Linked DNA regions of Homo sapiens: region 2 is linked to region 1. A link means that fine-mapping ties the variant in region 1 to the expression of a gene that starts in the linked region. Tissue or cell type: whole blood. Region 1 holds a variant in brackets; the other region holds the start of a gene. All regions are shown on one strand. Distances are from middle to middle.

Region 1 (8,000 bases):
GAGCTTGAGAGGAGAGGTATCATTCAACATACAGATTCCTTAGTCCTTGCCTCTGACTTTCTGGGGCTGGGGTCCAGGGCTCTTATTTTTAGCAAGCTCATCAGATGATTTCTGATGAAGAGCTATGTTTGGGAACTTCTGACTGGGTCTAATTCCCTGAATTTACAGATGAGTACACTGACACCTGCGCAAGTTGAACACCCTGCTTAGCGTCACTCAGAATCCCAGGGGTGGTGGTGAAGTCAGGATCGAACCTCAGTCCTTCCTCCCACACTGGGACTGCTTGGCCAAGGCTTCGAACCCAAAAGCTGGTGCTCCAAAGGAAATCCAAAAAGAGTTTGCAGAGTGGTTTGACGTGGAGGGGATTCATCGGCCAGGTGGGGGCTCTCTGCCCTCCCTTGGTGGTGCATCATCTCCTGTAGGTGTTTTGTCACCGTGGAAGGGCAGTAGCCTGTGCCTGTTGGGCTTGCCACTCAACAGAGGTCACTGAGCTCTTCCGCACTCAGCTGGGTGATTGGCCTGTGGTAGCTGCAGGTGGAGGGAGATGATTCTCAGAAGAGAAAGGCCAGTTCTTGCAGTCGTGTGATCTTATAACCTAGGGGACTTGTGGATCTGAAACATCTGAGAAGGCTGTTTGCAGTTATTTACTACCACAAAGGAAACTGGGAGAGGAGGGACCACCTGTTGGAAAACCATGCTCAGAAGTGACTGGTCTGTTGCTGAAGGATGGAAGGATATCAGGTGTTGCATGGCTGGCTCCCTTGCAGGAAGGAAGGGCTCAGGGGGTGAGAAGGAATAGGAAGGGAGTTTACAATGAATGAAGCTGGGTGTCCTCAGGAGATAGATGGACCAGTTGGGGTGATGTCATTAACTAAGCTGGAATGTGTCCTGAGTGCCAGCCTATACCGCGACAGACATCTGTGCACACTATTCAGAATTCCAGTGTGAGAGGCCACTGCCCCCTCTGACCTTTTGAAAAAAAAAGTCAGGGGAAGACACATAAACAGTGTCACTCACCCACAAAGTCTCAGGACCTCAGGTTAAACTTTAGCTAAAGAAGTAACAAATAGAACCCCCATTTTACCTTCCTCTTTCCTAACTTCTGCCTCCCTCCCTCCCACCAGCATGGCCTGAATTACTAATCCCAGCCTGTTGGTGGGCTGTGCTATTGAACATAGTGGCCACATGCTAGATGGAGTTTGGTGACCACCATCAGCCATCCAAAGAGGACTGGCTTCAAATTCTCTCCAACAAAAGCTGTTTCTTGTATGTGCTGGCGTGTTTATGAGCCCTGTCTCAACTGAGCATGCGTGGTGATTATGAGCTACTGCCTGACCTCCTTCCCTTTGTCCCTCCCGCTAAATTCTGTAAACAAAGTTAAAGTAATTTAGGCAAATTCATTCTTGCTTAAGGACTTCTATTAAATGGCAGAGAGCTTTGATATTTAGCAATGTATAAAATTTGTACAATCAAAACCAAGCTTTAGAAGAAATATGCAATAGATCATATTGCAGAACTCTCATGACTCATTTTTTCCATGCATTTGGCCATTCTACAAATCAGACATTACCTAGCCTTCCCCTCACATGGCAGATATAACTTTTATTTACCCATTCAAGAAATTGATTGTTCACACATTCCTTTTTCTTTGAAACAAGGTCTTGCTTTGTCGCCCAGGCTGGAGTGTAGTGGTGTAATCTTGGCTCACTGCAAGAAGTGAACTCCGCCTGCTGGGTTCAAGCGATTCTTGTGCCTCAGCCTCTCAAGTAGCTGGGACCTCAGGCATGTGCCACCATGCCCAGCTAATTTTTGTATTTTTGGTAGAGACAGGTTTTTGCTATGTTGGCCAGGCTGGTCTTGAACTCCTGGCCTCAAATGACCCGCCCACCTCAGCCTCCCAAAGTGCTGGGATTACAGGCATGAGCCACCATGCCTGGCCACCACACATTTTTTTCTAAAGCTTGGTTTTGGCCACAGTGAGAGTTTCTTGGGCTGTCAGGGGTAAAAATACCATGTCTTGTTTAACAGCAGCCATCATTTTAGCAGAATTTTTTTTTTTTTTTTTTTTGAGACTGAGCTTTGCTCTTGTTGCCCAGGCTGGAGCGCAATGGCGCGATCTTGGCTCACTGCAACCTCCGCTTCCCGGGTTCAAGTGATTCTCCTGCCTCAGCCTCCTGAGTAGCTGAGATTACAGGCATGCGCCACCATGCCTGGCTAATTTTTATGTATTTTTAGTAGAGACGGTGTTACTCCATGTTGGTCAGACTGGTCTCGAACTCCTGACCTCAGGTGATCTGCCCGCCTCGGCCTCCCAAAATGCTGGGATTACAGGCGTGAGCCACCGCGCCCCGCCCCTTAGCAGAATTGTTAATATCATTTTTCAGACTTGAGAAATTAGAGCTCAGAGAGGTTAAAGGTTCTGACTCGTGAGTGAATCTCAAAGGGCAAAGCTGGCATTCAGGGTTCTTGACTGCTGGGTTCATTGCTCATTCCAGTTTGTTAATGAATCGTCCACTGCTATGGATATTAATGGAGTCGTCTAGAGAGCAGGGGGAGGAGGATGGTGGTTAGTATTTATTCTGTTGCCCAACATATGTCAAGGCTAAGTGCCTTTTGGGAGAAATTAACAAAGACGGAGCCATGTGAGTTTTCTGCCCAGCTAGGGTGGAACCAGGAAGCTGCGGCCAGCCTTCATTCCCCTGGCCCATTACTCAGAATTAACTCTTGAAAGGCTTGGAATGCTATTACCTGTTGCAAGAGGTGAGTTCATTGGAGGAATGATAAGTTCAGGGTTGGCTTAGATCATCTCTGTGGTACTCCTCTTTCCCAACCCTGCTCTTAGATTTTAAGATAATCATGAGATAGGAGGAGAAGGCTGGAAAATGGTAAGTCTTTCTTCAGAATAAAGAAAAGAAGAAAGAAGAGAGACACATGAGCTGTTAGGAAGATGTGATTGTTCTAGGTAGGGAAAAGGTCTTATTTCCTCACCAGGTCTGGATAAGGACCGGGGCCACACACTCTGAGGAGGAAGGACCAGGGAGGTGCTTTTAGATTCTTGGGGCTTAGTTTCCTAAGAAAGCTTTTTAAGGTCTCTCTTAGATCAGGAATCACCAATTTCCAAATAGAGCACTGAGGTCAGAACATTGTGCTAGGAGAAAATGAGATTTTGTGGGAGTCCGTTTCTATCAAACACAAGAGTTTGATTTGTTGAGTAAGATCATTGATGCAACAAACAGGATTACATTGGAAAAATGAGCTGTGCCAAAATTAGGTCTGAAAACCTGGGTATGAATGCATAGAAGTGAACAATAAAGGCTCTTTCTCTTGGGCTGTCAGCTTCCAGCTGCTCTCCTTGGCTAAATTAGTAAGGGTGGGCCAAAAGACAATGTAGGGACCCCATGATAATTGTGAAGAATGGCAGAGAGGTTGTTTGCTCCTGTGAATTCAAATGGTAGTCCATCTGGGCTCAGGTTTGCCATCTGTAAAATGGGACAACGATCCATTTCTTTTCATCCCATCTGCCTTCCTCATCTCCAGCTCTCCTCTAGGGGTCTTAGGTAGAAAGGTGTGGCAGTCTACCCAAGGCAGGGGTGGGAGTTCTCCCCTGCCCTTCAAGCCCCCGACTAATGGCTCTGGGGTTGTCTGTCATCTCCCTGACTTCTCTTTGGAAAAGCTTGACCTTCTATATGTGAAATCCCTTGCTTCTGTGTTGACCCATTTCCCTAGGTGCTATGTAGGGAAGAAGAGCTAATGCTTACTAATCTACAGGGAAAGTCTCTTCAGGGGCCTTGGAGGTTTCTATCAACCATTTCTAAGCCCATGAGCCTTTTCCATTGATGTCATTTGGGGTTGCTAAGAACCATTTCTTATAGTGACCTTTGCACCATAGCCCATGGAGTTGCATACATAAGTGGTTGCTTAATAAATATTATTCTGAACTTAACTCTCTTAGGCAGAAAAAAAATACAACTTGGTATTTTTGTTCTGAGGGCAAATTCCATCTCTAGCTGGAGTTCGACATCTGGAATGTTTTCCTGTGGATTGTTCTTGCAGCCTATAAGAGGATATATGGGAAGAACTTGGTAACATGTGAT[A/G]ATGCCCTTGTCTGACTGAGGGGAGGAGGGGCGCTATGTGGGTACTTCCTGGTAGGCAGGAAATGGAAGTGGCTAAGAGCTAACCCCATGTGTGCCTACTGTGTGCCAGGCCCTCTCTGTAGATGCAGGCAGCATCTCTTTGGATCCTCCCAGTTGCCCATAGGAGGTGCATACTGTTTGTCCTTTTACAGATGAACAATGGAAGCACAGAGAGCTTAAGAAAGTTGTCTGGTGCTGCACAGCTCAGTAGTAAAAGCTTGAATTCCAACTCAGGCAGTTAGATTTTGGGGTTTGAATCTCTTTGGCTGGGAACAGTAACAAGGAATGCAGGCTTTTCTCAGCCTACAATGCTTTCTGATCTCTGCCTGGTCAACTCTTTCATTTCCCTTCCCTGGGCTTCTACTTCAAGATGTGGAGTTCAGATCTGGCTACGGGATTTGAGTCCAGAAGCCTCTTCCTGAGAAAGAAACAGATGCTGATGCATGGTCTTGTTAAACCATCTTTAAAAGACCTTGCATCAGCAAACCAGGCCTGTGGATTTCTTCATCTTATTGGCATGTTCGTTGGCACTGCTGAGATCAATAAAGAAATGGAATGAAACATACCCTTGAATCCAGGTGGCCTCTGTGAGGGTGGACAAACTTGACCTTCACCTCAGAGAGTTTGGGACATCTCAGGGCAGGAAATCAACTTTGTCCTCCTGGAGGAACACTGCCAAGTTGACCCCAGCCTCCTGGGACCTGGAGCCAGGGTTGCATATGACATCTGTGGGCCCTGGACACTGCCTCTGTGGGCCCTTCTATAAAAACATATATTTTTAAAATTTAAAAATTATTATTTTTCGTTTTTGAGACAGGGGCTCACTCTGTCACCCAGGCTGGAGTGCAGTGGCATGATCATGGCTCACTGCAGCCTCTAACCCCTGGGCTCAAGTAATTTCCCACCTCAGCCTCCCAGGTAGCTGGGACCACAGGTGTGCATCACCATGCCTGGCTATTTTTTTATTTTTAGCAGAGACAAGGTGATATAGTTAGGCTTTGTGTCGCCACCCAAATGTCATCTTGAATTGTAATCCCCATAATCCCCAGGTGTTGATGGAGAGATCAGGTGGAGGTAACTGAATCATGGGGGTGGGTCCCCCATGTTGTTCTCGTGATAGCGAGTGAGTTCTCCTGAGATCTGATGGTTTTATAAGGAGCTCTTCCCCGCTTCACCTGGCACTTCTTCCTGCCACCTTGTGAAGAAGGTGCCTTGCTTCCCGGACCTTTGGCTTCTACCACGATTGTGAGTTTCCTGAGGCCTCCCCGCCATGCTGAACTGTGAGTCAATTAAAGCTCTTTCCTTTATAAATTACCCAGTCTCAGGCAGTTTTTTATAGCAGTGTGAAAATGGACTAATACAGTCAGGCGTGGTGGCTCATGCCTATAATCCCAGCACTTTGGGAGACCGAGGTGGGCCTCCTGTGGCAAGGAGTTCAAGACCAGCCTGGCCAACATGGTGAAATCCTGTCTGTACTAAAAATACAAATATTAACCAGGCGTGGTGACACATGCCTGTAGTTCCAGCTACTCGAGAAGCTGAGGCAGGAGAATTGCTCAAACCCAGGAGGCGGAGGTTGCAGTGAGCCAAGATCGTGCCACTGTACTCCAGCCTGGGTGACAGAGCGATACTCTGTCTCAAAAAAACAAAAAAAAAAAATCAAAAAACCATATTTTATAACTTGTTTAATAAATGCAAATGTATTAATATTATATAGTAAGACTTTTTAACCTAAAAGTTATTTTTTTTTTCTGATGTTAATAGAAATAAAAATATGTCCTAGGCACTGTGCCTCCAGAGCCCAATGGACAAGTTGGCCCTGCCTGGCGCCTTCAGGCCCGAATGCACATTTATCTGTGTGTGCCCCTCTCCTTTTTCAAATGTGTTTCCAGAGATTGCAGAGGGCCTTCTTCTGAGGATTAATGTTGGATTGACCTCTGGGACGCAGCCAAGGGATGGTTCTTTGGCCACTGTCTGTGGTACAAGAGGGCTTCGTGAAGATGGGGAGCTGCAGGCTGAAAGTCCTCTAGGAAGCCCAGGGAAGATCCTGTGCCCTGCCCCCAAGAAACTGTGGACTATTGTGGCTGCAGATGGAAGGGTAGCGGAGGGGTCTTAGCCGTGGATGCGGAATATAGTGGAGCTAGATTTGCTTTATATGGGGCCTGGAGCCATTTCAGCAATGGGCTATCAGCTTACAGGTCTTGGGCTAAAAGCCTGACTCCAGAAGAGTGATTCTCACCCTGGGCAGTTTTGCCTCTCCGGGGCCATTTGGCAACGAATGAAGACACATTTTTTGTTGTTCCAACCTGGGGAGGGTGCTACTGGTTTCTGGTGGGTAGAGGCCAGGAATGCTGCCCAACATCTGGAGTACACTGGATGTTCCAGGCATTGAGTTCGGGTGAGCGGCTCCTTCCCAGAAGCTCATGGATAGAGGTACACATGAGCTGCCTTTCCCGTCTCCAACCAGACAACGTGTTGTTATAGCCATAATAGAGACTGTCTGCCTTCACCCAAGCCACTTCCCAAGAGGGCAGAGCCAGGTGAGCCTCTGAGCATCACAGACTTCATGTCCACAGATTGGAGAGTTCCAGAAATGGTGGCAGGGTGCAGTACCAGCAGACTCCCAGAGCTCCTGTCTTCTCTAACACCCTGTGAGCAGAATGCGGTGTCGAGGTCTCCAGAAACCCTTCCTGCCTCTGTGGGCACAAAGCTGGGTAGGGTGCGGTAAGCAGGGTGATGCCAAGGGTGATCTCAGGTACCAAGGGTTCGGGTGAGGGCGAACTGGAGGTTCCCACTTCATTTTGTCTTTCTCATTTTGATCCTGAGTAGCTGGGAGGGAGTCAAAGGGCTCTTCTCTATGTTCCAATGCAGGTGGTGGGAGTGGGGAGACTTTCTAGCTACTTTGCTCTCCTCCTGTGTTTTTGGTGTCTGCAGAGGGCAGGGGCAGGGAGCTTGAGATGGTCCCACTCAGGTCTGGGGACAGAGAGGCCTGTCTGGGAAGGGCAGCGGGGCGGAGGCAGGGAGGCTGGGGATGAGTGCGTGCGCTGCACGGCATCTGTGTGCTGCGTTAGAGGTCAGTGTTGAGATGGAAAGTTGACTGAACCTGATCTCTTCTGTTTGTTGTCCAGGTTTGTCTGATCTCAGACTTTCCCCGGCCTTTCTCTTTCACCCTTTTGTTTCTGACCTCTGGGGTCCATCTGAAGAGGGAAGGGGGGCTCTTCTAGGAGGGTGTGGACCTGGTGGCGCTGAAGAAATCTGCCGCACGGTGGGGTGACTCAGCGTCCCTGTTCTTGGGAACCTGGCAGGCAGCTGAGCAGGGGCACTCACTCAGCCTGCCTCTCTGGGTCCCTGGGTGTCTGCTGCTCTCCATGTGGAGGAGCACAGAGGGCAGGGCAGGATGGATGAGGAAAGCTGTGGGCTGGTGCCTGGGTCTGATTAGACATGGTGGAGCAGGACTCCAACCTAGCCTGGAGGCGCACGCTAAATCGGCCTTTTCCTGCCGGTGGTGCTGGGCTGCCGGGCTGCTGGAACAATTTAATCTGTGCTGGCTTCATTTATGGTACAACCCAGGCTCCCCAGAGCCCCTGTGGGAATAACCATTCTAAATAAAATATTTTTCCAGGTTTCAGGTTTATACATTTAACATTTAAATTTTTTTTTTCCTGGAGTTCAACAATTTTGGATAAAAGTCTTTTAAAATGATGAATAGGTAGAATTTTAATTCCCTCCCCTTTTTGATGTCCCAAGATCATCGTCATCAACGTAATTCTTGTTTTGGGCTGTAAGACATGGAAATCCCCAGGGTTCATTGAGGGGCATTCATTGTTTGCCACACACAAAATGTACCCGGAGTTTGTATGTTTTGTT
Region 2 (8,000 bases), 21 kb before region 1:
ATTACAGCTCACTGCAGCCTCTACCTCCTGGGCTCAAATGATTTTCCCACCTCAGCCTCCTGAGTAGCTGCGACTACAGGCATGCGACTACAGGCATGCGCAACACCTGGCTTATTTTTTTATTTTTTGTAGAGACGGGGTTTCACCATATTGCCTAGGCTGGTCTTGAACTCTTGGGCTCCAGTGATCTTCTTGCATCAGCCACCCAAAGTGTTGAGATTACAGGCGTAAGCCACTGTGCCTGGCCAATGTTCTTCTTGATCTGGGAGCTGGTTATACGGTGCGGTCAATTTGTGGATATTTATCTGGTTTATCTACTTTTTTTTGCATGTATATTTCAATAAAATATTTTTAAAAAACATTCCTCTCCTGATGACTTAGTGGAGAAAATCTCAGCTTGGGTTTGACTTAACTTGAATGCTTCTTCTAAATTGTCTCATCTTTCTTAACTTGGGAAGAGTGTGCCAGCTTCAGAAGCTTCAGCAGGCAACAGTATCCAGCTCGAATCAAATAACATTGTCTTGTTTTCATTGTGTTTTATGGTTACCATCTATAGATGGCCATCAATACTACATTTCCATTTATGGTAGTGATATACAATTTCTTTTAAAAATGATCGTAAGCAAAAAAAAAAAAGAGTGAATTGCCTTACTTTAAAAAAATTATGTAAATAATAGTACAGGTGGTACCTAGTTACGGTAAACCATGTAAGGGTGGGGTTTATAAAACGTGGTTGAGATGGAAAAAGGCAGGGATTAAGGGGAAGGGAGAAAACCAGTCTTAGCCTGTCCCCATCTCTCAACCAATCCTCACTGCTGGGCACAGACAGGCTCTCAAGCCTGAGGACATACCTTTGCAGAGGACTCATGAGAAATCTAAAGTGAAGAATGCTCCAGGAACAATGGGATGGGCAAAGCCAGAGACAACAAGCGGAGAACCTGGATTCACTCAACAAATATTCTTTGAGTATCTCTGTGCAGGCACCGTTCTAGCCCTGGGCCTACAGTAATAAGCAAAATGGTTAAGTTGTAGGCCAGCCAGTAACCAGCTCTGGGTTCTGGGCTGAGTCCCCCTACTTCTCTAGGCTTCAATGGATTGAGGATGCTCTGTGATTCAAGCCTCTGTAGCAGCTGGCCTTTGGGGAGTGGGATTCTGAGTGAGGCTCAGGAGAGGTTAGGAAAAGCCTTAAAAATATGGGATTATTTTGTTATGTGTTTGCGTGTATTTAGGGTGGGGAAGGGTAAAATTGGCCATTAACCTGGGAACTAGGAGAAAAGAATTGGGTGTGGCCTTCAGGCTCATTAGAAAGTGAAATATCATTGAGTACTTTGCATTTGTCAAGTCAGCATCACTTTGCCTGCTCATCTCCACTGCTCTTGGCTGAAAGATCAAGAACTTTAAAAGGAGGTGGAAAGAGAATGAATCCCAAAAGATAAGTGAGTAGCTGCATGGGAATGAATGAATCAATGCCACTCTTAGCCTCTTAATAGACTCATCACAGCCTTTCATTCCCAGCTCCTGGGCATTGCAATTAAGACAGAAAGAGAATGAGGGGCCCTGCCAGGAATATTTTGAGAGACTGTACTTTTCATTCACTCAACAAATATTTATTGAGTGCTTACCTGGTGCCAGGCAGTATTTAGACCTGTGGGCTGTCCAATTTGATAGCTACCTAGCCACACATGGCTATCAAACATTTGAATTTTGGCTACTTCAAACTGAAATGTGCTGTATAGCATACACATCAGAACTTGAGGATTTAGTATAAGAAAAGGAATGTTAACTCTCTCATTAATTTTAGTGTTGATTACCCATTGAAATGATAGTATTTTGGATATACCGCCAAATTAAGAATATTATTAAAATAAATGTCATCTATTTCTTTTTACTATATTTTAATATGGCTACTAGAAATTTACAATTGCACATGTGCTCACGTTTGCGATTTGCAGTAGATTTCTATTGGACAGCGTTGTGCTAGACCCTGTGCCTACTCTGTAGGAGCTCAGTGGGTGGGACCAACAGAAACACGTTACAAAGCAGGCAGGAGACACCAGGGAGAATGAAGGTGGAATGACCATGATCCTTCCTGTGTCTTATTTTTATTTTTTTTAGATTGGCACTGTACATAGTGCTTTTTACTTCTTTTTTTTTTTTTTTTCAGATCGGCACCCTACATAGTGCTAACGATTTTTTTTTTTTTTTACTTTTTTTTCAGATCGGCACTCTACATAGTGCTAATGATTTCCAGAAGTCCAGCTCTGTCCATCTCTTCCTCTGCTCAAACATGGATGCTGTATCCTTACTGCCCAGCATATTAAGCCAAAGCGCCACAGTCAACTGGATTTCCTGCCTCCCCTGCTGCTCTCTGCAAGCATCCTGCACTCTGGCTGAAGTGGACTTTCTGATCCCCAAACTCATTTTCCCATTTCTCTCTCTCTCTCTCTCTCTCTCTCTCTCTCTCTCTCTCTCTGTGTGTGTGTGTGTGTGTGTGTGTGTGTGTTTTGAGACTGATTCTTACTCTGTCACCCAGGCTGGAGTGCAGTGGTGCGATCTTGGCTCACTGCAACTTCCACCTCCTGGGTTCAAGCGATTCTCCTGCCTCAGCCTCCCAAGTTGCTGGGACTACAGGCGTGCATCACCGTGCCTGGCTATTTTTTGTATTTTTAGTAGAGATGGGATTTCACCATGTTGGCCACGGTTGGCCAGGCTGGTCTTGAACTCCTGATCTCAGGTGATCCACCTGCCTCGGCCTCCCAAAGTGCTGGAATTACAGGTGTGAGCCACCGCGCCCGGCCCCATTTCTGTGTTTTTGCTTCAGGTGGTCCCTCTGCCTGTGCCCTTGCTAACCGCCCATTTCCTCTGGTAGAATTACAAGCTTCAATTTCAGCTCCGACTCACCCAAGAAACTCCCCTTTCCTCAACCACCACATCACCTCTCTACCAAAATATTTCTTTTCTTCAAAGCCTCTGATAAACATTTATTTATTTATTTTTTATCTTACCAAAGTCTTTCCCGATAACTCTTCCCAGCTTGGCGTCTTAAGACCAGGTACTTGCCTTCCTGGAGGCATCTAGGTCACCTTCAGAGCCAGGTGGCCATTGGGTTAACTAGCTGTTGAACTGAATCAAACAGGCTCTGAGCCTTGAAGTCAGAAAGAGCCAGAGTGGAGGGGTCTGGGGGGAAGAGGGGCGCTGAGGTATAGGGAGATGAAACCTGCGGTGGAGGCAGCTTAATGGTCCACCTGTCACCCAAGGAATCTCTCTGACAGGGGTCTTTGTTAGGGTCACACCCCAGGAGATGGTTGATTATGGCTGAGTCCAGCCTGGAATGATGGGGGTTGGGGGCAGCTTGGGTAGATGACTCAGTAAATCAAACAGAACAATGAAAGGAGGTCATGCTTGTCCATCTGCATTATTGAAGACAGCCATAAATGGCCTTACCCCAGAGCGGGTCTGTCACACCTGGAGAGCTGATCTGACCTCTCCAAGACCCCTGCAACTGAGTGTTCTGGGATCTGTCCTGCAACAAGTGCCTCGAGATTTGTAGGTGGGGGCCCAGGGTGCTAAGGGATTATTTTAGCGGGCGGAGAAGGGAGGGGGTCTGCAGACGAAGGGGGCAGGTTTTGCGGGGCACTTAGGGTTCTCATAGGTTGTAGTCACGAGCTCCCAGGTTTGGAAAACTGCAATAGTCACTAAGACCATTCGGGGCTGTTTGGGTCTAGCTTGGTCTAGACGGGTCTGAAACTCCGCAGGACCCACCCAACAAGAAGTCATTGTTCCAAGCCACGTGTCAGTGGTGGGTGATACCCCAGGATGGAAGGAGTTGGTATGAGCCGACTGAAATCTACTTGAAGGTCAAAACGGAGCCTTATGTCTTTTGTGTTCCCCAGCGGTTAGCCCAGTGCCGGCCACAGGGGAAGCGCGCAAACGAAGTCCTCGCGAACTGAACTGAGAGCAGACAAAAGCACGCGCTCTTCTCCACCGCCACGCCGGTCCTACCCAAACCCGCGAGTTATCCGTATTCTCCTTCAGGAGTCATAGTCAGGCCAGAAGAGTGCGGAGGGACGGGGCCCGGGAAGAGCAGGGAACCCCCAGAGCCCGCAGCCAACGCGGAGGTGGGCGAGCGGGCGTGCGCGCACTCACTTGCCGGCGCGAGGGAGTGTCGGGGGGGAAGGGAGTGGTCTCCAAAAGGGGGAGGGGAGAAGGCAGGGGGCGGGGAGAAGCCGGCCCTTTAGGACCCGGCTGCGGCGGCGAGGGAGGAGGAAGAAGCGGAGGAGGCGGCTCCCGCGCTCGCAGGGCCGTGCCACCTGCCCGCCCGCCCGCTCGCTCGCTCGCCCGCCGCGCCGCGCTGCCGACCGCCAGCATGCTGCCGAGAGTGGGCTGCCCCGCGCTGCCGCTGCCGCCGCCGCCGCTGCTGCCGCTGCTGCTGCTGCTACTGGGCGCGAGTGGCGGCGGCGGCGGGGCGCGCGCGGAGGTGCTGTTCCGCTGCCCGCCCTGCACACCCGAGCGCCTGGCCGCCTGCGGGCCCCCGCCGGTTGCGCCGCCCGCCGCGGTGGCCGCAGTGGCCGGAGGCGCCCGCATGCCATGCGCGGAGCTCGTCCGGGAGCCGGGCTGCGGCTGCTGCTCGGTGTGCGCCCGGCTGGAGGGCGAGGCGTGCGGCGTCTACACCCCGCGCTGCGGCCAGGGGCTGCGCTGCTATCCCCACCCGGGCTCCGAGCTGCCCCTGCAGGCGCTGGTCATGGGCGAGGGCACTTGTGAGAAGCGCCGGGACGCCGAGTATGGCGCCAGCCCGGAGCAGGTTGCAGGTAACGCGGTCTGGAACAAGTAGTTGGGAGAAACTTGGAGGGCAGCGGAGAAGCCCGACGGGCGGCTGGACCTTACGGACGGTTTTAGGGGCGGCAGAGCCGAGACCTTGGACCAAATCAAGGGGGACTGTTGCTAGCGGGACGCGGAAGTCAGGCCCGGGGAGGGGAACTGGAGTTAGAGCAAGTGGAAGAGCCCTGGCGACTCATTTGGTGGGGATGAATGGGGAGAGGAAAGGCATCCCTGCTGCCATAGTTTTACCCGCGTGGAACGGACCCAGACTTCTATTCTGGAGGAGGGATTTGCTGAGAAGGGGGCCGGTGGTCAGATCCATGGGAGTAGGAACTCGAATCTTATTTGGGGCACTGCTTGAGGACCCAAGGGTCCTGGTGGGATCGCTGCTGGGAGGCGGAGGCTGCGGGGTGCCAGTGACACCAGGAACCTTGGAAGAGGAGAGGGAGCTAGGAGGAGGCACCGGCGTCCCAAGGGGCCCTTCCTTCTACTGGGGTTGTGAGTTGGAAAGAAAGGACTTGGTACTTTGTAGGATGAGTCGCTTAGGAGAAAAATGAAAACCACCACTACTATTTCTCCATAGGGAACGAGCAGGGCTCTTGCTACCACGTTGAATGGAAAAATAAAAGGGAGGCATTTGGTAGGCGAGGGGTCTCCTAGCAGCTGAATCAATGTAACTTAAGCCCGATCGCCGGCTGCATTCCCTGGACGGGGGCAGCCAGGCTGTGCGGTTTCGCATCTGGGCCCCAGATCGAAAGGCAGGAGAGATGCGTTGCCACCCCCCACCCCCGCCCCTATCTTAAATTGAGGGACCCTTTCCTGTAGGATAGAATGAGGACCCGATATTCTTTGTTCAGGGGCCCTCATCCCTCCCAAAAAGTTATTTGAGGGACACAACCAGGCTCTAAGGAGGTTACTTTTTTTTTTTTTTAATTACGAAAGCCTCCTGCCCCAGTGGTCGGGAGGAAGCTGTAATTATTTTCTTTCCTCTTGGAGACAGTGGTGAAATGTGTCCACTGCCTGCTGCTGTTGTTGAAAAAGCAAGTGAGTCTTAAGTTTCTCAAACTTAAAAAGAAAAAGTGAAAAGAAGAATGCTTGCTTTTTAGCTTCTGAGGTCTTCGTAAGCCCCCCACCCCATGCACCAACCCGCCTCCCTTCTCCTGGTCGGCTATTGTTTTTTTCCCTGTTCTCCTTGAGAATGGAATTAGGGGTCAGAGTTGAAATCTTTCTTCTGTTTCTCTAGCACATTTTGCTCTGGAGTACAGAGCAAGTTAGGGCTTCCTCTGAGTGGAGCCTCTCAGTCCCTTTCTTCTCCCTCGGCTCGCTTCCTTCCCTAGCCTGCCTGGAAGTTAACCCTTCCCTCCTGCTTCTCTTAGAAAGTAACAATAAAAGGAAAAAGCCCCCACGAAATCCTTTCACTGCGGGGTGCCTGTCCCCCAGTCATGCGTTCCTCCTCATCACCCCTCGTGGTCCACCGGGGAGGTGCTGTGCAGTTTCTGAGCTGAACTCTGACAAACTAAACATCTTCCTCAGCAGGGTGAACTTTTTGAAAGGCCTCTAAGTTCATAGGATGGTTTGGCTGCTGACTGTTTTAATAAAGTGTGTGATGCCTTTCCTTCTTTAACGTTTTACTTTTTTTTTTTTCCTACTCTTCATTCGTCTTATTCTAAGCCTGAAAACCAATTCTACTTCCCAAATCCCTGAAGCCGGTTAGGGTCTTTAGCCAGGAACAGATGCGGCAGATTTTCTCCCATTCACTTTTCCCTGGAGCCTGAAGGGGGTGGGGGGTAGTTGTCAGGGGAGGCCAGGGACAATGGGGTGAGTTCATGGGAAGAATGTCACTCTGGATTTTCTGCCTGGTTATGGGACTCCCTTCCGCCAGCTTGCCCCAGCTGCGTTCTCCTCCCCAGTGCCCAGACGCCTTCCGCATTTTTGTGCACCGGCCTGGGAAGAGGGGATGTTAAGCAGGGGTGGAAGGTGGGGGGTGGGGCTGGAAGCTGAGTGGGTGCACTCAAAAGAAGTGACCAATGTCAGGGGTGCCTGAGAAAGAGTCGGGCTGGGGGAGGGGAGCACTTTGGGAAGGAGCCTGAGCTTGCAAGGGTGCAGGAGAAAAAGGGGTCAAGGTTGGAGGCTTTTGTGTGGGAGAGGGTCTTAGGCTGGGGCAGAGACTGGAGTCACTGGATGGAGAGTGCTGGGTCCGAGTTGGGTGGGGCCTGGCCCAGACGGAGATCTTAGCACTGAATCCTCTGCCTCCCACTCCATCTCCCGTCCCGTCTTCTCTCCTCTCCGAAGAATGAGCACCCCCCCTCCAGCCTGCATTCCTCTTTGAGCAGGTTGCTTTTGAGAATTTTAAACATACCCTCTTATTTCGAGGCAGCGAACCTCAGCAGTTCCGGCTTTGCTGTTAGCTCTTTTGTCTTTGTTCCCGGGACTCAGGGGCTGTGTTGCTGCTGGCTTCCTGGGGATGGCAAGGATGCAGGGGTGGGGGTGGGCACATCAGTGGGTGGAAGGAGTGGGTGGTGGTGAGCCTGTATCCCACGGGGACGATGGGCTGGGGCTTGTTGGTTCAAAGAAACTGAGAAGTCAGTCTTGGGGGAAGGGGTGGGTAGGCCTAGAAGAAAAACCGAAAGGAGACCCTGAGATCTGCTTGAAGTTGGGACTCTAAAAGCGTGTGTATGTGTTTGGTGGTGGAGTGGATAGAAGTGCCTAGAAATGTCAGGGTCGAGGAGGGAACAGGGTTGGGCCAGTCCAGGCCCTTTCAGAATTAAGGCTGGGCTAGACCGGTTCCTTCAGTATCTCCCCAGCCTCCTTCCCTACCGTGTACAATGCAGGGGATTATGCTGAGGGGCGGGGCCGCCCGAGTGGCCGTTTGGCCCGCTGCACGTATAAAGGTGCTACAGAAATGTGTAGTCGTTCAAAGTCCCAGGGCGGGCAGACAGGCAGGCAGGCAGGCGGGCGGGCGGGCGGGCGGGCGGGCCTGGGGAGGCTCTGCATCTGCAGTTGCCGGGGAAGAATAAAGGGGGGAAGAGGCAAGCACTGATTTACAGTGGTTCAGTGCAGCTTCAAAAAAAAAGGGGGAAAAAGCAATGGGACTTCTGGCTCAGAGTACTGCTTTGCATCTCGTCTTGCATAAATTTGCATACTGAGTTCAAAGTCGTAAAATAGACTAGGGAAATGAGTGG

The links. PIP is the estimated chance that this variant, and not a neighbour inherited with it, causes the effect.
Region 2: IGFBP2 starts here. The variant in region 1 is fine-mapped to the expression of IGFBP2 in whole blood (TOPMed, PIP above 0.99). The same link has a PIP of 0.9 or more in blood mononuclear cells.

Annotation. Positions count from the first base shown.
Region 1 is chr2:216,650,123-216,658,122 of GRCh38, forward strand. The region is part of intron 1 of IGFBP2 (insulin like growth factor binding protein 2); the gene reads left to right. Among named protein-coding and RNA genes, the nearest start is that of IGFBP2, 21 kb to the left of the region's middle. The variant A/G (reference allele first, on the strand shown) is at 4,095.
Region 2 is chr2:216,629,158-216,637,157 of GRCh38, forward strand. IGFBP2 (insulin like growth factor binding protein 2) reads left to right here and starts at 4,263. Exons shown (of 4, transcript NM_000597.3): 1 at 4,263-4,808. The coding sequence starts at 4,367.